Regions from separate parts of the Homo sapiens genome. Here all the other regions are reported to be linked to region 2. Evidence: microRNA targets listed by miRTarBase, many of them from high-throughput screens and not tested one by one. Region 2 holds a microRNA gene; each other region holds the end of a gene's coding sequence. Distances are from middle to middle.
The links. Region 2 holds the annotated microRNA hsa-miR-365b-3p (UAAUGCCCCUAAAAAUCCUUAU, at 3,786-3,807, opposite strand). A microRNA usually pairs through its seed, bases 2 to 8, with sites in the 3' UTR of a target mRNA and lowers its output. Matches are read on the target gene's strand: a 7mer-m8 pairs with bases 2 to 8, a 7mer-A1 pairs with bases 2 to 7 and ends in A, and an 8mer does both.

Region 1: the mRNA of ANKRD11 is a reported target of hsa-miR-365b-3p. Seed matches in the 3' UTR shown: 7mer-m8 at 1,222-1,228.
Region 3: miRTarBase lists SPOCD1 as a target of hsa-miR-365b-3p. The part of its 3' UTR that is shown has no 7-base or 8-base seed match.
Region 4: miRTarBase lists TMOD3 as a target of hsa-miR-365b-3p. Seed matches in the 3' UTR shown: 8mer at 3,852-3,859.

Annotation. Positions count from the first base shown.
Region 1 is chr16:89,261,923-89,269,078 of GRCh38, reverse strand. ANKRD11 (ankyrin repeat domain containing 11) reads left to right here. Exons shown (of 13, transcript NM_013275.6): 13 at 416-1,449. The coding sequence ends at 601. Among named protein-coding and RNA genes, the nearest start is that of ZNF778, 48 kb to the right of the region's middle.
Region 2 is chr16:14,305,689-14,313,146 of GRCh38, reverse strand. MIR365A (microRNA 365a) reads right to left here and starts at 3,862; the gene lies at 3,776-3,862. The region is part of intron 1 of MIR193BHG (MIR193b-365a host gene); the gene reads right to left. RefSeq lists enhancers at 2,370-2,489, 2,281-2,575, 4,462-4,511, 5,307-5,991, 5,992-6,677 and 1 more and a silencer at 2,401-2,695.
Region 3 is chr1:31,785,576-31,793,033 of GRCh38, forward strand. It overlaps SPOCD1 (SPOC domain containing 1), which reads right to left. Exons shown (of 16, transcript NM_144569.7): 14 at 7,103-7,192; 15 at 6,640-6,826; 16 at 4,847-5,716. The coding sequence ends at 5,028. Among named protein-coding and RNA genes, the nearest start is that of ADGRB2, 25 kb to the left of the region's middle. RefSeq lists an enhancer at 2,587-3,362 and silencers at 3,148-3,197, 3,528-3,817.
Region 4 is chr15:51,905,932-51,913,389 of GRCh38, reverse strand. TMOD3 (tropomodulin 3) reads right to left here. Exons shown (of 10, transcript NM_014547.5): 10 at 1-4,614. The coding sequence ends at 4,580. It also overlaps the pseudogene RNU6-90P. Among named protein-coding and RNA genes, the nearest start is that of LEO1, 62 kb to the left of the region's middle. RefSeq lists an enhancer at 4,863-5,032.

The DNA.
Region 1 (7,156 bases), 75 Mb from region 2:
ATGTGCACTTTTAAATGGCATAGTTTCTACTAGAAATACAAGTGAAACTATCACTGGCCGTAAGTAATTGTAAAATGACAAAAGCAAAGCTGTTCGATTCTAATAAGCTGCAGTGGCTGCTGGAGGTGAGTCCCAGGCCCACCCAGAGCAGGGCAGGGCCCCCGGGCCAGGGTGAGCCCCAGGCCAGGGTAGAGGTGGCATAGACAGCGGTTATGGGGACAGACATGTAGCACAGCTGGCGCTACCGCCACGTGTAGTAACTAGATGCCAGGAGCGGGTACAGCTGGGCCTGGCCCATACCAGGGTAGGTTCACGGCCGTATCACGCCCTTGGCCCTGCTGGCAGCTGAGGTCGGCAGAGTCTGGGGCTCTCCCTTCACTCCTCCTCCCTCCTCTCCCCGCTGTGTGTCCCGCAGACTTGCCTCCTCATGCGGCAGCAGCACGAGGCCGCGGCCCTGAACGCCGTGCAGAGGATGGAGTGGCAGCTGAAGGTGCAGGAACTGGACCCCGCCGGGCACAAGTCCCTGTGCGTGAACGAGGTGCCCTCCTTCTACGTGCCCATGGTCGACGTCAACGACGACTTTGTATTGTTGCCGGCATGACACCGCGGGACGGCCGCAGGACGCAGGCGAGGGCCGCACGGCTGCCCAGGACTGCTGCTGAGCCCCAGGGGCGGAGGAGGGAGCGCCCTGTCCACCCGGGCGGGGAGAGACCCCGAGAGAGACTGCACTTGGCCACAGCGCCTCCATCCCTTCCAGACTGGTCCAGACGTCGGGGAGGTGAAACACGTCTCTTCTCTACCAGCTGCCGCGGCGGGGGCAAAGCCCCCAGAGCCTCACTGGCCCCGGCGGGATGAGGAGACCATGCCGGGCGCGCACACACGGCAGCTTCTGTTTGAAAACGGCGACCTTCGGGCCCTTTTCTCCAGCAACTGCAGAGGCATTTCAGGAGTTGGAGAACGGAGTACATTTTTAAAATTTTTTGTTCCATTCTGATCAACTAAAGAAAATTAAGGTGTCCACCTCTCACAAACAGTGACCTGCAGGTCGGAGGGGCAGGAGCCCCATCCCAGCCGTGGTTCTGTTGCCGCCGAGCTGCGACGGCCTCAGACTGGGCTTCAGACCTGGTGCGGAGCCAGGCGGAGGGACACAGAGCCAGGACTCCCAGCCGTATTGAAATGGAGTCAAATCCGCGTGGTTTGTATCTTCTTTCCTTTAATCTTGGGCATTTTGTTTCTCTTTCTGAGAACGTAACTTGAAACACTACAGAGCCAATAATCATATAAAAAGTGTATCCGTAAACGCTGTACAGTTTTATATACCTTCACAATGTACTTTTGCTGCCTTCTAGATAATTTATTTTGCAACACATTACTGCACAGTTGTAAATAACTTATGTACTGTAACATCACTTTCAGTTATGTGTAAAGAAATAAATAAATTAATTAAAATGCTCTTTGTACAGTGCGTCCCTCCAGGAGAGGGGCTGTGTGTGGGACTGACACAGTGTCGCCCCTCTCGACGACCTTCTTACTCCCAGGACAGACGTGGTGGCTCACGCCTGTAATCCCAGCACTGTGGGAGGCCGAGGCGGGAGTCTGAGACCAGCCTGCCCAACATGGCAAAATCCCCTCTCTACTAAAAATACCAAAAATTAGCTGGGTGTGGTGGCGCGCGCCTGTAGTCCCAGCTACTCCGGAGGCTGAGGCAGGAGAATCGTTTGAACCCAGGAGGTGGAGGCTGCTGTGAGCTGAGATCACGCCACCCTACTCCACAGCAGACTCTGTCTGAAAAAAAAGAAAACCTTTTTCCTACCAAGTTGTTAGCTTTTAATTTTGAAACAAATTATCTGTTCCCCTCGTCCTCTGCCTTTGCACAGACCGGGAATGCTGTGGAATTACTGCCTCTTGTAGGAGCTGGAGAGAAACAGGAGCATCACTCCCCACGGATCTGAGCACTGCAGCCGTGGCCAGACCCCGTGGCCAGCTGTGCACGCCCCTGAGCTTCAGCTTGTGGCTGGCTGGCTTGTGCCCCTGCCCACAGTTCCCTGGCAGCTGCAGCTGGTGAGGGTCCGCGCTTTGAGAGCCCTGTCCTGGCTGGAAGGCAGCTCAGGCAAGCATGGAGATGCGAGGCCTCTGCTCAGAGGATCTTGGCACAGAGGATGCCTGCCAGGACCCTCCAGCCAGTGTGGCTCCAGGAGACTGTTGGCCCCCGGCGTGACAGGAGGGTGAGCTGATGGAGGCGCCTCACCCTTTTCCTTCTGAGCTGTCTGTCCCCTGTACCTGGGTGCTGGGGAGGGAGTGGCAGCTACAGAAACAACCCCCACAGAAGAGCAGACACTGCCCGTGCATCAGAATCAACAGGGTCCTGGTCACTGGGTCCCCTGCGGAGGAGCCCGACCTGGGAGGGTCCCTGAGCCCTGCCAGGCTGAGCCAGTGGCGGGGGCAGTGGCTTCATTCCCCCAAAGGCTGCTGTGAGCTCCCTCGCCAGCTGGGCCCCTGCGTGGGGTTGGGGGTAGGCGTGGGGCCATGCCCCCTCTCCTGTCTTCGATCTGTGAACAGAACTTTTGTGGATTCCCTCCTGTTCCCTTCAGGGCTGAGCCTGAGCAAAGGCAGGGTTGTCCACCTCATTTACGGGCTTGGGGTGGGGGTGTGGAGAAGCCAGAAGGTTCCAGTCTATTTTTCTGGGTTCGGATTAGCTGTGGTTTGTTTTGGGGGCTTCGTGGGTTTTTGGGGGTTTTTTGCTTGCTTTTGAGATGGAGTCTTGCTCTGACCCCCAGGCTGGATGGAGCACAGTGGCGCAATCTCAGCTCACTGCAGCCTCCACCTCCTGGGTTCAATTCTCCTGCCTCAGCCTCCCGAGTAGCTGGGACTACAGGCGCCTGCCACCACACCCGGCTAGTTTTTGTATTTTTAGTAGAGACGGGGTTTCACCATCTTGGCCAGGCTTTTTGTTTTCTCCACACCCCCTCAATCACAGAACTTTGGTCACAGTAAAACTTCCTTTAAGCCCTGCCTTAAAAGAAAAACCTGAGTCAGCCTGTGTCACACAGAGCACGCTGCAGTTCCAGCCCACAGTGGTGACGACGTCCCGGCCACCATGCTGTGCCTCCCTGTCTCGGGTGCCCACGAGGGGTGTCAGGCGAGAGCAGCTCCCTTCCGGCCCCCACCCTGGTCTGCTGGAGTCTCGGCTCCCGTGCACCTGCCAGAGATGCCGCACATGCGACTCCCAAACAGCCTCCTGCCATAGGGGACGAGAGACAGCCTGCCGCCCCTCAGAGAGACTTGTGAATAAACACTGAGAAACGTCAGAGTACCCAGAACCGCAGGAGCCTGCGTGCCAGCCTGGAGACCCTGCTGCCCGGGGCCACCCATGTGGGCTTCAGACCGCTCTCGGGAGTCTCTGGCTGGAGCTGGAGGAAGATGGCGTAACCCCACTCGCTCAACTACATCCATGGACCCCAGCGCTACCCAGCTCCTGCCTGGGAGCCCGGGCTCTGGAGCAGGCTGGCTCTGAGGGTCCACCACCTGTAACTCAAGCCTTCCTGATGCCTTCCCTTCCGGAGGCTCTGAGGACTGCCATTAGCAAAAAAAAAAACAAAAAACAAACAAACCCAAAGCACAGAGCAGGTGAGTGCTCGGACCCTAGGCACTTCAGGGAAGCCAGCACCCCTCCCTGGCACAGGGTCCCCCTCTCAGGGAAGCTGGCGCCCCTCCCCGACACAGGGTTCCCCCTCAGGGAAGCCGGTGCCCCTCCCCAGCCGAGGGTCCCCCTCTTAGGGAAGCTGGCACCCCTTTCTGGCACAGGGTCCCCCTCTCAGGGAAGCTGACACCTTGCCAAGGCGTAAGGCCCCAGGCTTCAACAGAAAAAGGAAAGAAATATGGCGGCTTTTGCTGCTGTAGAAGAGAAGCTGGTGGCTTTTGTAAAACCTGGAAGGAGGTGAGAGGTTTTTGTGGAAAGCCCGTGAGCCGTCAGCTCCCCGCACAGAGAGCGCCTGCTCTGCCCAGGAGACCGTGCAGCATCTGGCAAGACAGGTCTCCATTCAGGGGTCGCCATTTCCAAGCGGCAGCTGGGCCTGGGCCTGAGCCTGGCAGGAGGGGAAGGGCCCCAGCACGTGGAGCCGCACACAACCTCCACCCACCTCCCCCCACACCAGGGAGCTGCTTTCCTCCTTCCCGCTGGGGGACAGCGAAGACAGTCTCACAGGAGAGTAGAAGGAACTGGGCCCAGCTTGGCTCTGTTGGAAAGCAGAATGAAATACTGAAGCTAGAGAGAGGGACCCACAGGCAGTGAGAAGGCAGCCGTGGCATCAGCAAGAGCTCAGCTGTGGCATCAGCAAGAGCTCAGGGACGAGGTGCAAGTTGTACACCACAGCTGGGGGAGTGCAGTGGTATAAACCCCAAAAGCCCCATTACTGGGCACAGAACGTCACTCACATCTGAAATTACCTGTGATAAACTGGAAACATGGCTCACACCTGTGGTCCCAGCTGCTTGGGAGGCTGCAGCAGGAGGATCACTTGAGTCCAGGAGCTCACGGCGGTAGTGCACCGTGAGTGAGCCTGCGAACAGCCATTGCCTTCCCACCTGGGCAGCTCAGCAAGATCCTGTCTCTAAAACCAAAAATCAGGCTGGGTGTAGTATTTCACACCTATAATCACAACAGGAAGCCAAGGCAGGAGGATGCTTGAGCCCAGGAGTTCATGTCCAGCCTGGACAACATAATGAGACCCTGTCTCAACAACAACAACAAAGAACAGGCATGGTGGAGCGCGTCTGCGGTCCCAGGTACTCGGGAGGCTGAGGCGGGAGGATCGCCTGAGCCCAGGAGGCTGAGGCTGCGGTGAGCTGTGATGGTTGCTCCAGCCTGGGGGACAGAGCAAGACTCTGTCTTCAAAAAAAAAAAAAAAAAAAAGATACCAGCCGGGTGTGGTGGCTCACGCCTGTAATCCCAGCACTTTGGGAGGCTGAGGCAGGTGGATCACGAGGTCAGGAGTTCAAGACCAGCCTGGCCAACATGGAGAAACCCTGTCTGTACTAAAAATATAAAATTAGCTGGGTGTGGTGGCACAAGTCTGTAATGCCAGCTACTCAGGAGGCTGAGGCAGGAGAATCGCTTGAACCCGGGAGGCGGGGAGGGAGGTTGCAGTGAGCCGAGTTCGTGCCACTGGACTCCAGGCTGGGCCAGAAGAGCGAAACTCCGTCTCCAAAAAGAAAGAAAAAGGAAAGATACCAAGTTAAAATCGCAGCAGCCAGAGCCATTTACCCTGCAGTCAAGACCCCCACAATTAAGAAAAGGGGAAATAAATGACAATTCAAAGCAGCTACATAGAGACTGATTATGTCCCAGGTCAGAACCTCTGAGGGGGTGAGCTGATATGACAGAAAGGACGCAGGACTTCCAGGGTAGCAAGTCCCTCTGAAAATCCCTCCTCGAGAAAAGCAATGACACCACTAGGGAAAAAATTGTCAAAATTAACTTTTTCAGAACTCTGGAAATTATTAACTAAGGCTTGTAATAATTTAATGAATGTTTATTAAAGAAAAACAGCCGAGGCTTGGCATGGTGGCTCATGCCTGTAATCCCAGCACTTTGGGAGGCCGAGGTGGGTGGATCACCTGAGGTCAGGAGTTCAAGACCAGCCTGGCCAACATGGTAAAACCTCGTCTCTACTACAAATACAAACAGTAGCTGGGCATGATGGCACATGCCTGTAATCCCAACTACTTGGGAGGTTGAGGCAGGAGAATTGCTTGAACCTGGGAGGCGGAGGTTGCAGTGAGCCAAGATTGCACCAGTACACTCCAGCCTGGCTGACAGAGCAAGACTCCGTCTCCAAAAAGAAAAAGTAAAAAGAAAAACAGCTGAATATTGGTACAGAGAGCTTTGTCATTTTAACTTGCCGTGTTTCATTCTCCTTACTCCAACTCTCTGGTGCTTTGAAAACTAGCAGCCCAGAGAGGCAGGCTCAGTATGAGCCCCCAAAAGTCCCACCCCAGAGAGAGCTGTTGCCATCTTGATGGGGACAGGAGGTAGAGAAATTCTAGGCAGACAGGGGCAGGTTCCTGGTGAAGCCCCACCCTCAAGCTGAAATGCCTGAGACCATGGCCCACCTTGAGAACTGCCATCCCTGCTTTCCTGCCCTCATGTTGCCTGTTCCTAAACCACCATGGTCCCACCCTGCCCCCCGCCATCCTGTGTCTATAAAGGCCCCAGACTCAGCCAGCAGAGAGGAGAAGCAGCTGGATGTTAAGGGACAGCTTGACGGTGTCACTTCAGAGAAGAATCCATCTGCAGACACAGATGTGGCCAGACTTCAGGGGAAGATTACCTTCCCGCCCCATCCCCTTTCCAGCTCCCCTTCCTGCTGACAGCCACTTTCATCAGCAATAAAATCCCCCACATTTACCATCCTTCAATTCGTTTGCGTAACCTCATTTTTCCTGGATGCCAGACGAGCTCTAGAGCCACAGGTGGATACAAAAGGCGGTCACACCGGCCCTTTGCCTCTCACCGGCAGCCTCACGCGAAAAGGCAGAGGGTCCACTGAGCTGTTAACACTTCAGCTGTCTGTGGACGGCAGAGCTAAAGGAGCCCCGTAACACGCCCTCTGGGGCTTTGGGGGGCACAGGTACCCCGGCCCTGGATGCTGCACGGGGCCTGCACAGAGTTCACTGCTGCCGGCACCCAAAAGCACCTGCTCCAGCTCCTGCACCTGCTCACCCTCCTGCAAGGGGTGGAGCACAGAGGGTCCAAGTGAGTGGAGTTTGAACCCACCGGTGCCTAAACAGCCGGCCAGTTCCAGCGATCCTGCACTCCAGTCCTGCCTCATTGGCCCACACACTCCCTCCGCGAGGGGTTGAGGGCGGCAGGCTGAGTAAACCAGGCACCCCATTACGACTCCGGTGAAACAGCCTGCTTCAATCTCACCTCTGGCAGCTCCCTGGAAAGCATTCATAGGCCTGTGATATCTGGCCTGCCCTGCAGTTCGCTCAGTGAGAAAAGCCCCCTTTCCACAGCATTGGTCAGAAACAATCAGTGGCACCGTTTAACCACACAGCTGTCCAAGGCACTACCCACTGGGGCAGCCGGCACCTGCCCAGAAAGGACGAGGTGAGGAACGAGGCGCCTGTGGGGACCCGGGCAGCACTGACATTT
Region 2 (7,458 bases):
TGAAACACCACACCTGGAGTGCAGACGGACTTCATCCCAAACTATCATCTGTCCTCCGATCCCATTCGACTCCCTAAAGGAATTATTCACTGACCGTTGTCCCAGCATCAGACCCATTCATTCCTCCTAAAAATCATTTACTACCCCTGAGAGTGGCCGCATTTCCCCCATCTCCCTTCTATGACGGAAGTATTTATTTATATTTTTATATTTTTTTGAGACAAGGTCTCAGTTACCCAGGCTGGAGTGCAGCAGCGTGATCTCGGCTCACTACAACCTCTGCTTCCGGGGCTCAAGCGATCCTCCCACCTCAGCCTCCCGAGTAGCTGGGAGCACAGGTGTGCACCACCAAGGCTGGCTAATTTTTTTTTTTTTGTATTTCTGGTAGAGACAGGGTTTCACCATGTTTCCCAGGCTGGTCTCAAACTAGTGACCTCAAGCAATCCACCTGACTCGGCCTCCCAGACTGCCAGGATTACAGGTGTGAGCCACTGTGCCCAGCGATGGACTTCACTGGGTTATTGGATAATCATTCTCCCGCCACTCCCCTGGCGTTTATGCATGGTGAATAAATTCATATGCCTTTTTCTTTTTTTTTTTTTTTTTTGAGATGGTGTCTTGCTCTTGTCGCCTAGGCTGGAGTGCAGTGAGGCGATCTCGGCTCACTGCAAGCCCCGCCCCCCGGGTTCAGGCCACTCTCCTGCCTCAGCCTCCCGAGTAGCTGGGACTACAGGCGTGCACCACCTCGCCTGGCTAATTTTTGTATTTTTAGTAGAGACGGGGTTTCACCGTGTTAGCCAGGATGGTCTTGATCACCTGAGCTCGTGATCCTCATGCCTCGGCCTCCCAAAGTGCTGGCATTACAGGCATGAGCCACCACGCCCGGCTCATATGCTTTTTTCTCCTATTAATCCACTTGTTGTCAGTCATTTCTTTGGTAAAAACTTTTAAAAAATAAATATAAAATAGGGACAAGGTCTCACTATGTTGCCCAGGAACATTTTGAACTCCTGAGCTCAAGTGATCCTCCCACCTCGGCCTCCCAAAGTACTAGGATTACTGGCGTGAGCCACCATGCCTGGCCTGTCAGTTATTTTTAGCAAACTTTTAGCGGGTGAAGGGGCAGCCTTCCCTTGCCTCCTATGCTATGTGTTCTGGGAGTTGACTCATGACAGACATGTATGCATGATCCCTTCCTGAGATCCTAACACCAAGTATTCAGCGTGAAATTTCCATCGTAACGTGGGATTATTTCTTTTTTTTCCTTTCTTTCTTTTTTTTTTTTTTTTTTTGAGACGGAGTCTCGCTCTGTTGCCCAGGCTGGAGTGCAGTGGCTCAATCTCCGTTCCCTGCAAGCTCCGCCTCCCGGGTTCACGCCATTCTCCTGCCTCAGCCTCCCGAGTAGCTGGGACTACAGGCGCCCGCCACCACACCCGGCTAACTTTTTTGTATTTTTAGTAGAGACGGGGTTTCACCATGTTAGCCAGGATGGTCTCGATCCCCTGACCTCGTGATCCACCCGCCTTGGCCTCCCAAAGTGCTGGGATTACAGGCGTGAGCCACCGCACCCGGCTGGATTATTTCTTTGATTCTTTTGTCTGTCTCCCCTGACTCAACTGTGAGCCCCATGCGGGCAGGGGCTGTCTGGCTCCCTGCTGTACCTCCAGCACCTGGCACCCAGCTCCGCACACAGTAGGGCCTCAGCAGCCATCTATCCAGGGAAGGAAGGGCAGAAGCAGTGTCTAGCCACAGCAATCTGACCCAGAAGCAACAATCACAGCTCTCTTGAGTTTCTAGCCTGCGTGATTTACAAGCTTGTTTTGGGCAGGACTAGGTGGCATGCACCTGTAGCCCAACCACTTTGGGAGGCCGAGGCAGGACGATCGCTTGAGCTCAGGAGTTCGAGGCTGCAGTGAGCTTTGACTGCACCGCTGCAATCCAGCCTGAGTGACAAAGAGAGACCCTGTCTCAATTAAAAAAAAAAAAAAAAAAAAAAAGGTTGTTTTGGGGGAATCTCCAACAGCTCAGGAAACCATCTCATCGGCTCCAGGCTTTTCTCACTTGAGGTCCCCGACACTGTGCAGGTGGAAAGATTTAAGGGGCTCCTGAGAGCCCAGCCCCCATCCTGGCAGGCTGCAGGGGGTGGGTGGGGGGTGCGTTCTGGCAGCAGGGCCGGCAGCTGTCTGCAGGCCTCTCAGTGCCTGCTCTAGCTGGCCAGCGGGGGCCCGCTGCCACCCCCCACCCCATGATGCAGCAGAAAGTGAAACCGCAGTTGGCCCCTGCCGGCTGGGACTGATCACCCATGGTTTCCCTGCAAAACCAGAGTCCCAGGGGGCTGGTGGGCAGCTGGCTCCCAGGTCCGGCACAGTGAGGCCTGTCAGGCAAGTGCCCCTAGAGGCCAAGGGAGGTGCCCTGGCCAGAAAGGAGGGTGCTGAGTCATCGTGACCCTAAAATGAGAGAGAAATCTGAGCTATGGATCAATGCAGGAGTGGGGGGGTGAGGGGTCCCAGTGGTGTCGGTGAGCAGGGAAGGGTGGTTTCCCGACCCCCAAAAGGAAGATGTGTGACACCCAGTTTTGTCATGCTGGAGCCCTCTACAGATCTGAACTGGCAACTCCCCCATCTCCCCCCACCCCTCCCCACACCGACTACAGGAGTGCGGAAAATCCCTGAGATAAACAAGAATTCTCTAAAAGTGGACCTCTGAAACTTTACACACGACTTTCTGATTTCTGTCCCATCCTCAGGGCAGCTGTAGTTGCTTAATATTTTTCTTCCAAAACACCCACTCTTTTTTGTTTAACTGACATCAATTGATGGACAAAAAAAGGGCCCCTGTCTCCCGACCCTAAATGGAAAACCAACCAATTGCCTGAAGTACAAATCAGCGGTGCAAAGAATACCTACTAGAATAATTTTCACCTTTAGCCGGCGCCGCTTAAAATCAGAGATGTGCAAATCAGACTTGGGAGTCTGAGTTACAGGTTTCATGCCTGAGGAGCTGGTGGCTCAGAGAGACTGACTCACTTGTCCCGGGTGACACAGCAAGAGAGGCGCAGAGCTCGGGCTGGAATGCAGGCCTGGCTGATCCCAGAAACCCAGGCTCAGTGCTGGGCTGCCGTCTCCCCACCCATGAATTCCTCTGTGTGTATTCATATTATTACCTTCCATGTTTAATGCATGGACTCTCCAATTTTCAAAGCACCTTCAGAGCTTATACAACGTTAGAGCTTTTTATATATAACATTGGCTACATCCAAGAACCCTTTGAAGCCAGAGCAGGGGGTGCTGCCCCTCCCTTGGTGTATGGGGAAACTGAGGCAGCGAGCGGGGAAAGTGTTCTGTCTCAGGGAGCTAGCAGGAAAGCCAGGACTGCCCCAGGGCCCCCTGCCAAGGCGATGATCCCGGAGGCCCTGGCTGCAAGGACCAGGCCTCGTCAAACAGGTAACACTTGTTTCTTTCCGCTTTCCCTACCTCCCCCTACAACCCCCCAGAGCAAATGCTGACGCTGATGGGGAGCCACAGCTGTACTCCTTCCCAGGCCGGATCTCAGCGTCTGCCCCTGGAGGGCAAAAGCACGTTTAGCAACCAGTGTCTGCGCATGGCGTCTTTCAATTTTTCACAGTGATAACCGGTTTTGAGCACAAGAAGGCATCTACCAGGGACCCAGAAGGCGCTACAGCGGAAGAGTTTGGGGAACAGCTTTCTCTCTTCTTTGAGTTGCTGGAGGAACTCCGAGCTGATGTCTTTCTGGCCCAGGGACCCCCGAGGAATACTGCAAGAGCAATAAGGATTTTTAGGGGCATTATGATAGTGGAATGGAAACACATCTGCCCCCAAAAGTCCCTCATTTTCCCTGCGGTAACGAACCAGCTGGCAGGAAGTGGTAGCTCTCAGAGCACCAAGAGCCAAAACTAAAAAGGAAAAAATGTACAAAGTTAGAGCAAACTTTAAACAAGTGAGCGCTTTCATGGTGTACGGCGGCTCCGTGCAGACTCACGAAAGGGACCTCATCTTCTCAATAATTGGCTAAATAGGTCTCAGTGCAGCAGCTTCCACACAGACGTGCTCAGAAAACCACAGATCTGGAATCCCAGAGCAGGTTCCCAAAATGGATACAAGGATTATTCCCTAAAGCCAGGCGCATCATAGGAGACGTGACGTTTCCCCCAAACTTCAGATGACTGTTCCAGACCCTCATTAATGATCTAAGTTATCCTTCAACACCTCCTCCTCTGGAATGGGAGAAACTTAGTCCCCTTGGAAATGCTGATGAAAATACCTGGTTTCCACAACACGGACAGAAGGACTAAGGCTTGGGTAGGGGAGCTGAGTGGTTATCGCTGGTGGTGCAAAAGGGGCAAACCGGCTGGCGTGGGGGCTCACGCCTGTAATCCCTGCACTTTGGGAGGCCAAAGTGGGAGGACTGCTTGAGGCCAGGAGTTTGAGAACAGCCTGGGCAACACAGTGAGACCCCCCCCAAGTCTCTGCAAAAAATAGCCAGGTGTGGTGGTGTGTGCTTGTAGTCCCAGCTACTCAGGAGGATGAGGCTTGAGCCTAGGAAGTTCAGGCTGCAGTGAGCTGTGCTCACCACTGCACTCCAGCCTGGGCAACAGAGTAAGACACTGTCTCAAAAAAAAGGGGACGGGTTTTACTGCTAAGGTCCCAGGTGCCATCTCTTGGTTCAGCCACTAAGATCTGAGGACTAAGGAGTTCAGGGTGTCTTCCCCAAGGCATATAACCTTTGAGGCCCTGCAGGTGGGTGCCCCCTGTGCCAGCCAGCACCCTCAGAGCCAGGAAAGGGTTAACCCCTCCACATGGCTGACACCAGAGGAGGAGCTTACTACGCAGCCTGGGATATCACACTGGGCCATCTCAGAGAGGAGAGGCCTCTGTGAGTTCTGTGAATGGAAGTGGATTCACTGCCTTCAGATTGAGAACGGGGTGAAAAGGCATCCCCACACAGAACCGACGCCCCAGTCGCTAGCTGGCTCCTTGGCACCCGTCGCATGGCCCCGAAGCTCTGGCAGGGACTCTGGGCACCTGTACCAGTGAGCACCCGGCCATCTCGGCCAGGTCTGTGAGGGAGCGATTCTACCCTTGCCATGTGACAGCCGGCAACTAGGGCCCAGATCTCTTCTTTCAAGTAGCACCTAAAATATTCTCCGGGTGAACCTAGGGCTAAATACGGCATGGCCTACAGGTGCCGGGTCTGGACCTTTTAACGCCATTCTAAGATACGATCGAGAACCCACGAGGCCTTTGGTAGCCTGGAGTCCAGTTACTGGGGCCAAATGGGAGTCCCACGGGTTTGGCTGACTCAGGGCTGGGTGCAACTTCCTGGAGCAGGCACATGTTGGTGCCAGGGCAGAGAGGCTGCAGACAGTTTTCTTGTGTGTTTGAACCCAGAATGCCAGCCCAGTTCTCACTCTGGGCCGACCCCCAAGGTGGCTTAGTTGGTGGCCCCTTTTTCTGTCCACCTGGCCCACTTCTTTCCACTTCCAGCCTGCAGCCCGGCCCTTCCTGGCCTAGGTTTTCCTCCCAGCCTGATCAAAGCAAAAGGCTCAGCTCCCAGGTGGGAGGCCTCACGGAGCTGGAGAAGAGACCAGCAAACACATGCACGGTAACTCAGATGTGTTATGTGTTGTCTTGCTGGCTGGGAGCTACGCCTCCTAGGCCCACCCCAAGTCGAAGGATCGCAGCCCTGGTGCTCGAGAGCAAGGGCTTGGGGCTGGGCTGCAAAAGCTCAGCTTTGCCTCTGAATCTTCTAGAACCACGTTTGCACTCACACAGGACAGATTTGCTCTGAGCCTGTGGGATAGCCTCATCTGTTCCCCTTTGAGCATTTGGAAAGCAAAGTGGGGTTCTGCCCTCGCCAGAGCCCACAGGGTCACCAGGCTATTAAACCCTGCAGAGTCTCTGGGGAGGCTGACTTTGAGAGCCAAATACCCCATCTTCTGGCTGAACTGCTGCAGGCTTCGTCTCGGGAGGAAAGACCCCCAGGCACCTGTCTGGACTTGTCTGGGCACCAGTAGTGGCTCTGAGGCCACATCTGGGCCTCGGCTGGCAGAGGTCTGGGCTGTCTTGGGCACAAATGCCAATGCCAACAGGCCCAGCACTGATCTCACACGATTCCAGCAAGAGAGCCTAGATTTTTGCACATCTCTGAGAAAACTGTCATACCACACCGCACAGCTAACCTTAGGCGCAACCAGCCACTAACTCCTCTCCCTGCCCAGGCGAAGTCCCCTTTGCTGCAGTGGGGCAGCATTTCAGGGACACGGAGAAAGAAGTTTGCTTTGTGGTTCCGTAAACTCAGACGGATGATATAAAATCAGAAACCTTATTTTAAAGCTTGGTAAATATGTGCATATGTCCCCTACAACTGGGGACGCTGGAAAGGCAGCATCTGAACACTGGCTGCTTTGAAAAGAGGTCATGAGAAGGGCAGAAGGGGTCAGCTGGGCATGGGGTGATGGAGGGAACCCCAAGTCCACTCCTAAATTCTTTCAACGTCCATCTCTTTCCCTGAAAAGTCGGCTTGGCTACTAGGCCTGAAAAGTATGTTGTTTATATCATGTTTGTGAGCGTCAGGGTTTATTTTCACCTGCTCCAGATACAAGAAGCAAAAAGAACTCTACATTTTTCTGTGTTTGGGGTGCTCAGGCGAGAAAGAAAATGCCTGCTTAAAGTAACTGATCAGCAATGTTTTGTTTGTACACGCACTTTATTCTGGTGAGTGATTTTAAGTACCAAGTTTGCCTTAACTTTTCACTGCACTCATTTTTATCCTCATGGCTAAAATAGCTGTATTTGCTCCACAATCAAAATTAAAGGAGGGTGAGCTGATCGTTAGGAGGCTATAGTTGATCTGGCAAGAATTTCCATCTTTCTGTTCATAACGTTAAGTTGGGGGGTTGCTGGGAAGGGAAACAGAGAGAGTGTTCCCTTGGAGGGACTTTTCCAACTTTCATTGGTTTGAATCACCAACATATATTTTATTTTTAAGGAAGTATCATATTCATTGCAGAACCACCTCTAAATATTTTACTCCTGGCCATACCGTATTCTTTTCTATTGAAACATCTTTTTTGCCTCTCTGAGATCAGCTATGGCTTGGGGATTGCTAAGAACAAAATTCAAAGTTGCTTGTTTTTTGTTTTTTTTTTTCTTAAATCCACACTTCTTTGGGGGTTAGCGGGGGTGGGGAGGGAACAGCAACTGCTTAATGAAGTTTCTCACACAGAGGCAAAAAGAGAAAAGCCAAAATATATTCAGTGTATCCAGCAGTTCCATGCTGAATTTTTTTTTTCCTTATTGGTTGAGGGGGGTGTGTAGGAGGGTGGTGGGAAGGATCTGAAAAGAAGCTGTGATTCTTTGCTGAATTAATGATGACTTCTCACTGCAAAATGCTGATTTATAATCTCTTCACCATACTAGACTGTTTCCAGACTCAGAG
Region 3 (7,458 bases), not on the chromosome of region 2:
GGGCTGAAGTCCCTGTGAGGGAAGCCAAGTCAGGCTGAGAGCATCCCTGCCTGTCCTTGAGCCCCATTCCGGTGGTGGGCAGTGGGGGGACAACTCTGCTTTCAGGCACCATCCCAGGCTTCCCAGGGAAGCGTCCCTCCCTGGCCCCAGCACAGAGACAGGACACATGTAAAGCCACTCGGAAGTACAGGCACACAATTACCTAGACATGGACACTGGCACAGCGTGATCACACGTGATCCAGACACCCACATGTGTAGTCACAGATCTGCTGGGCACAGTACACGTACATATACCCAGGCATCATGAGACACTCACCTCATGCAGCCACACAGACGTATAGGCACATGCATGTTTACACACAGTAATGTGCCCATACATGGGTGAAACACATTCTTGCAAAGATGCACATGCTTAGAGTCACATGCATGCAGACACACTTGCATGTTTTCACACACATTCTGTCCCTCCCGTGTCCCCTCCCACCCTCCAGTTCTCTCTCAGTTCAATTCTCTCCAGTTCACTCCAGTTCTCTCTCAGTCCAGGGCCCTGCTGCCGCCCTCACCCACTATGGACAACCCTCTGAAGGGCATCACAGGAGGGTTGCATGCATATGTGACCCTATGAGTAAAAATCTGTGTGTGTCTACACGTCTGTTTGTATATGTGAGTGTCACTGGTAGTCTGTGTGGCTCTAGCTCTGTGAAAATGTATCTTTATGACACTGTGGGTATTTTTCTGTGTATCTCTGTGTATGCTTCTGGAAGGCCCTATGTGTGTCTGTGTGTACCCGTCTGTGAATGCGAGTATGTGAGACAGTGGGGAATTTTTATATCTATATGACTGCATTCTGTGGGCCACCTCTCTAAGTATGTCTGGATGTGTATATCTCTGTGTGCATTTGCATATCTGTGCCTGTGTACATGCCTCTGCGGTCCAGGATCCACAGTCTGGCTCAGTGGGCACCCCTGCCAACAGAGGCTGTGGCCCGGGGTGGGGCCAGGCAGGACTGAACTGAATACCCTGGCCATTGACAGTTGTATTTACAGAGCTCCGAGTAGGAACGTAATTGCTTCTATTAATCTTTCTCCGGTTGTTAATTGCTCACTTATCGGGTTGTGTATTATGCCGACTGTTGCTCTTAATTCGCCTCCATAGCTGCAGGTGTTTGCTGCCTTATTAACTGTTAATCGGCGCGACTAGGGATGGAGACTTAATTGGCCCCCAGAGTGGGACACAGGCGGGCCAGCCGGACACTGCCAGGCTCACAGCCTGTCCCTGGAACCCTCACCTGTGGAGCACAGTTGGCTGGCCCACCGCCATCCACCAGCAGACAGCAGTCTTGCATACAGCAGTCAGAGTGACAACTGCAGAGTATGGTCTCCATGCAGTCCTACCTCCTCCAGGAAGCCACTCAACCCCTTGGAACCCAGTTCTTACATCCCTGTCCATCACCAACAATCTTCCTCCACACAGGATAGGAGCCAACCCCAGTTTTTAAATGAACAAGAGCCTCCAGGAATTCTGCTGCTCCTATCCAGCACACTTAAGGGGTCCCTCTCGGCTTCTGCTTGCACAGTGCAAAGAACAGGGAACTCCCTCCATGGCACTGTTACATAGCTGCAGCAACGAGAAGGTTCTCCATACTGAGCTGACTTATTACCCCCCACACAAGTTGAAACAGAGGAGTCCTTACTGCCTACAACAGGGAAACTGAGGCTCAGAAAGGGCAAGGGGGTGGCCCCAGGGTTCCCCAGTCCTCTCTGGTAAAGGAACAGACATGTGGCTCTCCAAGCAGTTTCTGCTCTCAGTCTCCCTTCCATCCCAGTCCTGCTCCATCCCAAACACCTCAGTCCTGGAAGGTACTTCCTTAGCCACCACCTGCTCTGCCCTGGTCTTCGGGCCTCCCAAGCTCAGCTGTCACTGCTACAGCCGTCTCAGGCTCCAGGCCTTTGGGACAAGAAAGCAAGTTTTCTGGAAACCAGTGGGCTCCCTGAGAGAGACAAGGGTATAAGGGGGAGGCGGTAGGAGGGTCCACACTCACCAACCTGACCTCCAGCTTCCAAGAAGGACAAATAGAGAAAACAATAGTCCTCATCCTGTGCATCAAATCCAGTCTGCCCTGACATCTGGAAGTTCTTCTGGTGTCTAGTTGTCATGTCTTAAGCGGCAACTGAAGTTGATTTGCTTTGGTTGGGTTCTGAGAAGAGTTGGGCTCCAGGGAGGGAGGAAGGGAGCACCACTGAGTGCCTACTGTAGGCCAGAAAGCAGCAATTAGTGTGTGTAAAAGTGGCAACCAGTTAAACCCTCCCATCACCTGGTAAGTTAGAGATTAGTATCCCTGTTTACAGAGAAGAAAACTGAGCCACAGAGAGGGTAACTAAACTTGTCAAGGCCACACAGCCAGAAAAGGAATTGGAGTGCCAACAAGGCCTGGCATTGCTTGGGAAGCTGGGTGTCTTCAGTCAGGGATATCTGGATGGATTCATGCTAAGGGTTCAATAAGGGGACGTGGGGAAAGGGAACTGATGGTCACTGTCACAGCTCACTCATCCACCCCACATCTGAGAACATGGACAGGCTAAACACTCACGCATGCGCAGCCCACATGCCTATCAGACGGGATGAGGAAGAAGCAAAGAGAACCGTCCAGGGATAGTTGCCCAAACAAGTTCCGGCCCCGCCTCTATGTTAATGACATGCAGATATATGTAAATTTGTACAAGCAACCGCTCAAACCTTTGGGAGCAATGGGGTGACACAGGAGCAGTTGCTATGGAAATCCAAAAGCGATACCCGCTCTGCACCCCCACCCCCCTCACAGGCAGGCGCACAGACACGTGCACAAAGACGCAGGGTTCTTCACTCCGGAGCCAAGAGGATCACGGAGTGGCAGAGTGTGAACCGGAAGGACCCTCAGAAACTGCGTCCAGCCGGGGGAAGCTCAGGCCCGAAGAAAGTCACCGGGAGAGCAGTGTCGCGATCCCTGGTAGCCTGGGGCGCCTTCCACTAAAACCCAGGGCGCGAGGTGTCCCTTCCGGGTCCCGGGCGATTCCGGCTCCGGCCTAGCAACAACAAGCCCCGCCCAGCGTTGCATAGCAACGTCCCTGGAGCCTAGCAACCGTCAGTCACGCCCCCTAGCAACGTCATGCCTAATCCTCGCTCCAGGCTTCTGCCGAGAGAGAGAGGGGCAAGGGGCTCGTGGACTGGGGCCAAAAGGTGGCGGGGGTGGGGGAGGGTGTCATGTTTAGCAGGCTGCAGGATTTCGGGGCCCACCTACAGCCCTTCCACGGGCGAGCTGTTACAGAGCCGCGTTATCACCCCCATTTACAGAAGGGAAAACTGAAGCTCCCAAAGGAAATCCCTGCCCAGGGTACAGAGCTCGCTCTTGCCTGCGTGTTCCAGGAGAGCGGCTCTGGCGGCTCTCCGGAGGAAGCCCTGGACCTGGAGGGGAGGGAGTGCACACCCGTTTCCCTCCATACCAACTGCATTAGGAAAACCACCCAAACTGTGGGCTCAGAACCAAGCTGTAGGTTTGCATAGTAATTTGCGTCATTTGCATAGAGCGCGGAGGCTGCGGCGCTCCCAGGCCATTTCGAGCCGGAAAAGTTCCCGAAGGAGCCCCGCTCCCTCTCCCGGTTCAACTGTCCAGCCCCCTCTCCCTACCCCTCACCCGCACCCCACCCGCATCCTACCCCGCCCCCGCTTCCAACTCCTTGCGCTAAGTTCCCGCACCTCGCCCCACCCCCCGCTTTGACTCCGGTCCTGCCAGCCCCGACCTCCATCCCAAGGCCGAGGGCCCCCTCTGCTGTCGTCCGCGGGTAGGGCAGCCGCAGAGCTCATGGGGCAGAGAAGAAGGGCTCCCCCAACCGACCATCGCCCCACCCCTTCCAGTCCAGCAGGGGCCAGGGTGAGGCCTGTACATGGGTGGACTTTGCGAAGGGGTGAGCAAAGAGCGGGTAGGGCCCTTCTGGCCCCGGGGCGAAGGGTGGGGTTCTAGAGAGGTTCTCTCCTGGAAGCCAGGCCCCTTTCCCCACGCTGGGTTGGTTGGCCCTGGCAGCTGGTTCCCCCATCAGTCCGCAGATGCAGCTCTCTCGAGGTACACCCCACATGAAACGCTTGACAGTTGCAGTTGCTGTTAGAAGCTTGTTCTAGGCCCAAGGCAAGGCAGCACCGTCCAACCCTAATACCAGTCTCCAACCCCACCCTGAATGCCCACCACCAAGGCTAAGACCTTTGACATTTTCTAACACCAGTCTCTGGAATCTGGCAAGAGATACAGAGAGGAGTCACCCAATCTGGATCTCCTGACTTCCTCAACAGAGACCTACACACAGGCAGGCCATGAAACTCACACAGATACTCTCACATGCTTGCAGGCACACTAGTGCACAGAGATCCCTGAGAAGCACATAGACAGAGACTCGGAGGGAATATGGTGAAGGTATGTACTATCCTTCCCCATCTAGTCAAAGGAAAAAAAAATCTTAGTATTAACTGAAAAATTTAAAGTCCACTGCAACTTGCTTATCTTTTCCTCTCTAGCAATCTCTTGATGTCTGATGTCTGTGACCCTCCAAAAGGCTCTGTCCATTTCTCTCTCCACCCCCAACCTCGGTCCTACTTTCTTTCCCACCACCACCTCTTCCTCCTGGTTCAGAATACTTGCAAAATGCTTCCAGAAACCACCGTGGCAATAGCTGTGCCCTGGGGCGCAGTGATGGTTCAGGACCTCAGACCAGCAATGAGCAAGGCTGCACATTTGTGCACAAGACACTCACTGACACACCCACTCAACCCACATCTGACCAGGACCAGGGGCTCTCCTGACCAGCTAGCAGATGCAATCCCAATTTTACCAAATTCTTTATTGAACAAAAAATCAACAGCAAACATTGTCAAACAGGAAGTTCAAACAGGGCAGGTGGGTAGGGCTGACCATCCTCTCCTTGCAGTCCCACCTCTCTCTGGAACAGGCTTCAACACTAGTGAGGGCATCAAAACCCCTGTTCTGGTGGGTAAGGAGGGTCAGGCCTTTCTAGGGAAGGGACACTCAGAGCCAGCTTCATCTGTAGGCCCCAAAGAGGAGTCACGGGCTGGGCCAGGGGGCTCTGGAGCTGCAAGGGCGCTAGACAAACGCTGCAGAGGGCGGGGGATGGAGCTCTTGGTCTGGGGGCACAGTAAGGCTTGGAGCTGGTGACTCATGGTCGCCAGGGATTCGAGGTGCCGGAGCAGGGCTTGGTGGGGACAGGAGTCCCTGTGGAAGTGCTGGCCACGGCCAAAGCCATGACCAGCTGGTGCTACTGAATAGGGATGCTGGGACTGGCGCAAGCCTGGCTCTGGGGGCCACTGCCCTCGCCCAGGATGCTGCCAGTTTTCAGGCTCTGGCCAGAGCCTCCCCCTGCCTCTGGGGGGCCTCTGCCAAGCAGAGATTCCCCTTGGAGCTATACTGCCCCTGCCCTGGCTCTGCTGCCAGGCACCTCCTGGGGGAGGGGTGCCCTTCAGGGGCACATTCGGCCTCCTGTCATCTGGCTGATAGTATCTCTTCTCCACCTTACTGTTGAAGGAGACCATCTTTTGAACCTTCCCCAACCAGGGGCTGGACCCTGCTGTGTCTGGAAGCCCTTCCTTGGGGAGCAGCACAGCCAGCAACAGACTTGAGTGAGTGACCTCCAGACCTGGGGAAAGGAGAGGGGAGACAGGAAGAGCCCAAAGGCCTGCGGGGAAGAACTGTGTTCAGCTTAGCTGCAGCAGATCTGGAGCCTACATCCCAGGAAGGGCTTCTTCACAGTGAGATGGGGCCCATGAGATGCTGGGAAAAGTAAGTAGGAAGGTGGGGCTGTCTCGGAAGATTTGAGCTCTGCGGGATCAAGGCTTATCTGGCTGAGGCTGGGGTATGGATTGTTTGACCTGAAGACTCTACAGACTCAAAGTCTACCTCATTGTCTCAGGACATGGAGCCCCAAAAGGCCAAGCGCTTTGCTCAGGAGTGGGCAAAGCGCCCACTGCCAACCTCGCTGCTTTCCTGAGCCACGCCGTGGAGGGTGTCCATGCACAGAGGCCGAGCTCGGCCCCCCGTGGCTGTGGCGAAACATCCCTCCCTCCTCTCTGAGGTGACATTTACAGTCAAGTGTGTGTAGGTCCTGACTCTGTCCTGCTGCCTGGGTCAAATGTGGCTGTCCCTGGAGTTTCTCTTCAGGGGTGCCTACCTTGAGAGGCAGTGTGGTGTGGTGGTTAGGGGCCAGGTTTCTGAAGCCATGTTGTGCTTCACACAACGTGTGAACAGAGTGAAGCCCAGTTCTGCTGTTGACTGACTGTGTGACTTTGGACAAGTCATTTGCCTTCTTCCTCCCTCAGATTCTTCTTCTATGAGATGGACAGTCTAGTCTAATAGTACCATTCTCATAGGGTGATGAGACTACAAGAATTCATCTAGGTAAAGCTTTTAGAACAATGGCTGGCATGCAGTTCATGATATCCAAGCGTGAGCTATTACTGTCATTGTACTCACATTTGCCTGGCTGGGTGAGGAGTTCCCTTCTGAGATGTGCCTGCCTCTACTGGGTGACTGTGTCAACCGTGCCTGGTCTGGTCACCAAGTGAGCAGAGGCAGGGTCTGGTATGGGGACTAGGCACTCACCTGGGCCCCCCAAAGGGCGCAGCCTGGTGGGCAGGGGCTGGAAGGCAGGCAGGGGCAGCAGGACCATCCCCATGTGCTCCACAGAGGCCAGCCCGTGGCGCTGCCTATCATTGAGGTATGAGTAGAGCAGGCGGCAGTTCTGGGTGTCCCGGGCCCCATGTGGGCACAGTCTGACCACGCAGACGTCCTGCGGTGGCAGGAGGAGAGCAGCTGTAAGCGCAGTCATCCTCTGCTCCTGCCAACACCCCTGGGCTCCCTGAAACCCCTGAGAACCCCGTGAGAAAGTATGTCTCCATCTTCCAGAGGAGGAAACAGAGGGACCTGTCCAGGGTCACACAGTGAGTCTGCAGTCACTCTGGGAACTAGACCCAGATATCCAAGCCAGGCCTCTGCTCTAGAAGTGGAGAGGGAGGTGGGAGTAAGGTACTAGGAAAAGAGGGGGTGCCCAAGAGTGGGCAGGTACCTTGGCCTTGGCTGGGCAGATGCTGGCCAGAAGGTCCCAGACAATGTTGGAGGGGATGCAGCCTGCCGAGCGGATCACGGTGGGCAGAGCCTAGGGGCAGGAAGGATGGCCAGTCAGCTCCCCAGCTTCCCACCCACTCAGGGTGGACGCATTCCCAGCCACCTGGAAGGCTGCAGCCTGTGGCAAATATGGGCAGGCAGTGTTCCAGGACCCTCAGTGGCTGCCCAGAAAGCTCTAATTGCCCCATGGAGGTCTGCAGCCTGTACTGGCTAATCTACAACTTCTCCAAAGCCCCTCCCTCCCTCCTCTATCCTCTGCTCTCATCCGACACTTTAGCTGATCATTAAGTCACTCAA
Region 4 (7,458 bases), not on the chromosome of region 2:
AATTCTAAATGCTCCAATAAGCATTTCCTTTGAACACTATGTTAGTACTCAAAAAGTTTTCAATTAGGGATGTTCAATCTGTAGATCTAAGAATGACCAAATTAAAATATAAGAATAAGGCTGAGTGTGGTGGCTCAAGCCTGTAATCCCAGCACTTTGGGAGGCCGAGGCGAGTGGATCACCTGAGGTCACTTTGAGAACAGCCCGGCCAACATGGTGAAACCCCGTCTCTATTAAAAATACAAAAAGTTATCCGGGCGTGGTGGCGGACGCCTGTAATCCCAGCTACTTGGGAGGCTGAGGCAGGAGAATCACTTGAATCTGGGAGGTGGAAGCTGCAGTGAGCTGAGATCGCACCACTGCACTCCAGCCTGGATGACAGAGTGAGACTTGGTCTCAAAAAAGAATATAAAAATCTTTGCCTCTGAATACTATTTTCTCAATTTAAAAATAATTAGTGAAGCGTTTCTTTGATTTGTTGGTAAGCAAATCTTAGGGTAAGAAATATCCAGAAACATTAATGATCAGTGAGAGCTGATGGAGAGGATAATTTTACAGATACTTAGACCCCAAGAACTCATAGCCCTTAACTGAGAGCAGCAACCCGAGTTGTCTCTAGTGCATCCATATGTTTGCTTCTCTTGGGTGACATGGGTCAATACGTTCAAAGTGCAGTAACACTGTAGAATGAGTAAATTTGGGCAGTACTAAACTTGCAAAGAATGGAAGTGACTAAGGACTCCAGAGAAAGCATGATCCTTGCATCTGCTGGGAGGTTAACAGTGGTTCCTAGTTTTTTAGGGAAAAAGTGAGGCAGCCCTGGGAACACAGACCCTAAAATGTAAGATTTTATAAAACTTCATAAATGTTGTCATCTTATTTTAATGACAGCAAGAGTTAAATATAACGTACAATATGATATGAGTAACATTTTATAAAAAAAAAAAAATTTTTTTTTTTTTGAGACGGAGTTTCACTCTTGTTGCCCATGCTGGAGTGCAATGGCGCGACCTCAGCTAACTGCAACCTCCGCCTCCCGAGTTCTAGTGATTCTCCTGCCTCAGCCTCCCGAGTAGCTGAGATCACAGGTGTGTGCCACCACGCCTGGCTAATTTTGTATTTTTAGTAGAGACAGGGTTTCTCCATGTTGGTCAGGCTGGTCTCGAACTCCTGACCTCAGGTGATCCGCCCACCTCGGCCTCCCAAAGTGCTAGGATTACAGGCGTGAGCCACCGCACCCGGCCCAAAACATTTTTTAAAATAATTTTTATTATGTCATGGAATCCTCTTTTTAAACAAAAACACAACAGATACTCGGTCAACTGGAAAACAATTTATAGAATTCTATTTACATGTAACTTCTCCAGAGCGAATATCTTATACAAAGCAAGGATGTGGGTTATTTCAATCAAATAACATGAAGTCGCAATTAAATGACCAAGCTAACTCTCCTTGAAGTCTCTAACCATCTGCTAATTTATTTAATACAAAATGCTTATTTGGTCTTTTAAATGACAGGCAACTTTGAAAGTGTATTTCACCTATTCTTGAGAATTCTACTAGGCTTTAGCTACAAGAATATAGCACCAAAATCCATTTTAATAGTATTAATATTTGCCACTAATATTGAGTTTTTAATACATACAATTTCATGTAGGAATACTGGAAAAATTCAGACAAATATGAGTATAACATTTTATAAAATGGGTAATAAAAAGCTTTTTTAAAAATAGCAATTTAAAAACACAAAGAATATTCTTTTAAATAACCACATAAGCTGGTTAGACTACAAAACCTAAGGTCTCAGAAAACCTTTGGCTTAAAAATTAAGACTATTGCAAAACCCTAATCTATTTATTATAAAATTTTAGAGCAATTTAGAAATACTGAAAGTTACTAAGAGGTGCCAGATTTTTAAAGATTGAAGTAAACCCGATTTTTCTCCCTTATAATTTTGGAAAGATTTTGTAAATTCAATTGGATGAATGTTCATATTTAATGTCACTTATGAAGAAATCATTTCTTTCAGTTATACAATGAACTACTATAATGCAGAATTGAAATGGTACAAGCAAAATACTCAACTTCATACTTTGATAAATAATATATGAAAAAGATATTACCCATAAGTATGATGCAAAATTTTAGGTAGAGTCCCACTTACCTATATTAAAAACAAAAACAAAAACAAAACTTAAGGGATGAAGGGGGAACTATTTATCAACTAATTGACTTACAGGACAATGCAAACGAGGATGCCTGACTGAAAGTCTAGGTGACCAATTCTTTCTGGTAGCCTGAGATGCCTGCTCCATGCCTGACTCCCAATCTTGCTGGAACTGTGCAGTCTCTATAAAATCAAGTACAATCAAAAAGCTGCATATGCGGGGAAAAAAAAAGAGAGGAGAAGAGAGGGAGGGAGAGAAATAGGTAAATAGAGAAGGTAGGAAGGGAGAGGGATGGAGGCAAGGGAGGCAAGAAAGCAAGCAAGTGAGCCTTGCTAACTTAGAAAAATATCAGTGGCCTTTAACTGACAGGGAATAGTGCAAAGTTAACCTTTGGCCCCTATAAAACATTGGATACTGATTTAAAAAACAAAACAAAACAAAACCAAAAAACCAAAACAAACCAAAACAAAAAAAAAAAAAGAGAAACACCACAGTTCTTATGAGGGAAGCTTAGCCTGTTAAGAAGGCTTATTACCATAGCACACAAGAAGCTGCCTTGCTTATTAGATAAACTGTCCAGCCCAAGCCAAAGTAGCAGACATATTGCAATTCAATTTCAAAAAGTTTGTTTGTTTGTTTGTTTTTTGAGACAGAGTCTTGCTTTGTCACCCAGACTGCAGTGCAGTGGTACGATCTCAGCTCACTGCAATCTCCATCTCCCAGGTTCAAGCAATTCTCCTGCCTCAGCCTCCTGAGTAGCTGGGATTACAGGTGTGCACCACCACACCCGGCTACTTTTTTGATTTTTAGTAGAGACAGGGTTTCACCATGTTGGCCAGGCTGGTCTTGAACTCCTGACCTTAAGTGATCCACCCACTTTGGCTTCCCAAAAGTGCTGGGATTACAGGCGTGAGCCACTGCGCCCGGCCCAAAAAGTTTAAAAAAAATTAATAATGATTAGCCACCTTGCCTTCCTCAGAAATGAGACTTTTCCCTCCAGAAAAATCTCTGTAAATGATACAGCCAGGCCTGAATTTTGAGGCCAGGGCTACCTCAGATTCCATTCCTCCCTGTTTTCTGCAGCTGTAAATGCCTCTGCCATCTCCTGCTCCAGGGGCTGCCCTGAGACAGAACATGAATACAAGTCCAGACCCTCTACCCAGCATCAGCTCTGCAGTCTCAAATCAGTCTCCCGACCACAGTACTCTATTCAATTGTTCACCTTAATACTTTGAGCAAGAAAGACTGCTTTTATTATAGAAATGACTTTTATAAATATTGATAAAAGTATAAGATGAAAGGAAGCATATACTAAAAATTAGATTTATGAAGAATAGCAGTTTTCCTTCTTGGTTGGAAGATTTGTAGCAGTGATTAAATACTGTTTATGCAATTCTGCACTGCACATAGGAACTTCTTCGGATATGGTGTAACACCAAGTAATTTACATACATGCCAGCTTCCAACTGACTTACAGTAACCATCAGTTTAAATGACTGTTTTGCAAGTGCCTCATACTGGAAATCTATCATATTTATTATCTTTGATTTCATTGTTTAACAGTTTTCTTTTTTCTCTTACCCTAAATAACTAAGAGTTGGCTGTACGCCTTTTTTGGGGGGTGGGGAGGGAGGTGGTGAAAACAGCTTTTATTTTTTACTATTAGCTTCCACAAAAATTTAATAATGCCCACATTATTAAAATGAAACACTGGAATGAACTTCGACCTCACTATACTTTTAAATAAAGTATGTAACCTGGCAAAGCTGATGACTTTGTTTTAAGAAGACCTGGGTGTTGCTACGTCACATCAGACAAGTGCAGTAACCTGGAATGCACAGACGACCACCCTCTCTCCCTGGAGACCTGCTTTAGCTCCTACACAGATGACTAGATTTTGAGTTAACTGTTTTAACATTCTGGCATTTTGTTCTCTTGATAAAGAAAAATCACACCCTTGCCAAGTTCATGTATTTTAAAAAATGGAAAACTCTCCAGGTCACGGAGTGAAGAAAACACTTAAGTGTTTTATGTCTAAATGAAGCAATAACAATTCTGATACCAGCAACATCCCTTTTGATTTAAAAAAGATTGGTCCTCACAATGTTCAAATTATTCTACACAAATGACCTGTGAAATTTTTTACAGTTGTATTTTTTTGCCCAAGATTCATCATAAATCATTCAATTAAACTAAATTAAAATTGATTTTAGCAGAAAGTAGAAATGTTTCAGAATATAAAATATCACATTACTGATTTTACAATTTGATAACAACTAAAAAAAAAATGCATGTCACTAAAAAAATTTTTCCAGTCTTTTCCCTTCTACCCAGGAAAATTTTACATGATGTCACCAACATGAGCCCTTGGTGATCTTCTGAAGTCTTCCAAAGATTACACCTTTGCAGACTTACTGGTGATCTCCTTCAACTCGTCTCTTACGCACTATGAGAAAAATAAAAGAAACTATGTTAGAAATCCCTATTAGTTTTTACAATGGTAACTTGCTTATAACAAGCAAGTTTCTGCATAATCCAGTTATAAGTTTTACAAAATTGAAATGTCCATTTCCAGTTCACATGACCACTAATTAAAAAAAAAAAAAAAACAACCTACTTCCCATCATTCACCACTGTCATTTACTTGTTGAGAACCAAGGGGCTTCAACAAAAGAATTACATGCCCTAAGCTCAATGACTCATAGCTGTGCTTACACAGCAGCAGCACTAGAAATCTAAAACAGAATGGTCAGCAATCATCTACAAGTCATTTGTTTTTGTTTATTTTTAACTTTGTAATTTATTAATAAAACAGACATTAGGTCTCACTATCTTGCCTAGGCTGGTCTTGGACTCCTGAGCTCAAGTGATCTGCCCGCCTCAGCATCCCAAAGTGCTGGGATTACAGGTGTGAGCCACTGCGTCCAGCCCAAGTCATTTGTTTACTGAAAAAGTACATACTCAGGTTTTAAAAAACAGCTAATAAATTAGTGTGTTAAATTTTGAAGTGACATTCAGGCAGCTGGGGTTAGAACATATTAAAAGTAACTATTTGCATGCTCTCCTGATTAGACACTACAATGTATTTCCTTAGGCTGTAAAAGAATATACCAAAAACATTTTTGTCATTTTTATAGGTAAGTGATTTGCTACTGCTTTCTGAATTTTCCTTCTTTTGTCTCCTGTAATATAAACCAGTTCAGGGTCTGATAAAACAACAAATGCAAAGTAATGAAAATCTCAGACCCTGGTAATATGGTGTGGTCACTTCCGGCTACCATAAACTTTGGCTGCCTAAGTGGCCAGTCAACTAGCTCAGCTTTTACAGCAAAGAACGGTACATGTATGTATCTGAGACTACCAGCCTCTTCCTGGACTGGTGATGTCAAACTACTCAGGGGTGTTCTCTAGTAGCAGAACAAGGTCTTCAACTTCAGATCTTGCTACCTGCGCTCTCACCTATCAGCCACTAGAGAGCATTCACTGAGGGCCACCAATTCAGGGCTATCAGCATTGTGGCCGGCTCCTAGAGAGGACAAAAACCACAGGTTCCAGAGTTGATGACAAATAGAGTGAATCATGGCTCTGTCACTTCTGTAGTGTGTACTTTGGCCTAAATTGGCTGTTTGACAGAGGAACTAGAAGCCAACAGGTACACCTGGTGTCCTGGCCAGGCCATAGACACTCTGCTCTTGTGCTCTTCTGACTGCTGACTTCTGTTTGTCGGCCTTTAATAGATAAGACCATACGTTCAGATGACGTATATAAAATCTTGTTCAGCCATAGGCTGGGTGCTTGCTTGAAAATAAAACCAGAAGGACTAAAGTATCAGGTTCCCACGAACATTTTTATAACTATCTAATTAAGTTCGCCTGACTCTTAAGTTTATTTTATTTATTTTTTGCCAGAACTCAATAAAAATAGGGATTGCTTCATGAATGTCTGTGTCATCCTTGCAAGGGGCCATGCTCATCTTCTCTGTATCATTCCAATTTTAGTGTATGTGCTGTCAAAGCAAGCAACCGACTCTAATTTTAATCCATGCTAACAAAGACAAGTTTCATGTGTTCACTGAAGTATTAAGAAAAAAAATTAAATGGAGACTTGAGCCCTCAAATATCAAATCATGTATATAGATCTCTGAAAAATATAGAAATGTCTGAAAGGCAAACTTCAGATAATTCTTTTTTTTTTTTTTTTTGAGACGGAGTTTCGCTCTTGTTGCCCAGGCTGGAGTGCAATGGCGCGATCTCGGCTCACCGCAACCTCTACCACCCAGGTTCAAGCAATTCTCCTGCCTCAGCCTCCCGAGTAGCTGGGATTACAGGCATGCAACACCACACCTGGCTAATTTTGTACTTTTTAAAGTAGAGACGGGGTTTCTCCATGTTGAGGCTGGTCTCGAACTCCTGACCTCAGGTGATCCGCCTGCCTCAGCCTCCCAAAGTGCTGGGATTACAGGCGTGAGCCACTGCGCCCAGCCCAGATAATTCTTTAGGGTAGAACATTTCAACGAAAATTTTGAATTGCAGCAGGGTTTGGATGTTACTGGCATACCACTTCAGATGCTATAATGCATGTTATAGAAAAGATCTACAGGACAGAGTGCAGCAAACAAAAAAGGTCTAGAAAATGGAATATGCAGTTAACTAGTGTAAAGATAGTAATGTGAGACTCAAAGGTAAATAGAATATTGCATGTATACCATAGAACCTCTTTGCTGTTACAGCTGTGACACTTCTTAGCTGGAGAGATGGAGAGCAGGTAGAATTATTTCAATGAATAGCTGAGACTAAGAAAACAATGAGAGAGGGAACGATGTTATCAAAATCAGAACTCAAAGATCTGATAAAGCCCCATCTACAAGGTGAAAAAGAACTATATGCCCAGGAGATTCTGTACAAGTTTCAAGTCTTGTTCTTTGATTATCTCTTTTGAGTTAGTACATATCAGGCTGCTGAGACCAATATGTCAGAAAACATGGTCTTCAGGCTTTTCAATCTTTATCTATTAGGCAGAGGTCAGAGTATACAGCTGAAAAAAAGTTAAGCTGAGCAGAAGAATGAGAGGTTGCTGCCGCTGTGTGCACAACAGAGGACAATGGGGCAACGGGCCATTTCTGACCCCTCTTTCTCACCTGGTGCTCACTTGTTACCTTCCAGCAATTCCTCAGCTCATCCTCTAGATGGCAGGCTTATAAATTTTGCCCTATTAACAATTCTTTGGATCTGGTCCAATTTCTTTTTTTTTTTTTTTTTTTTTTTTTTTTTTGAGACGGAGTCTCGCTCTG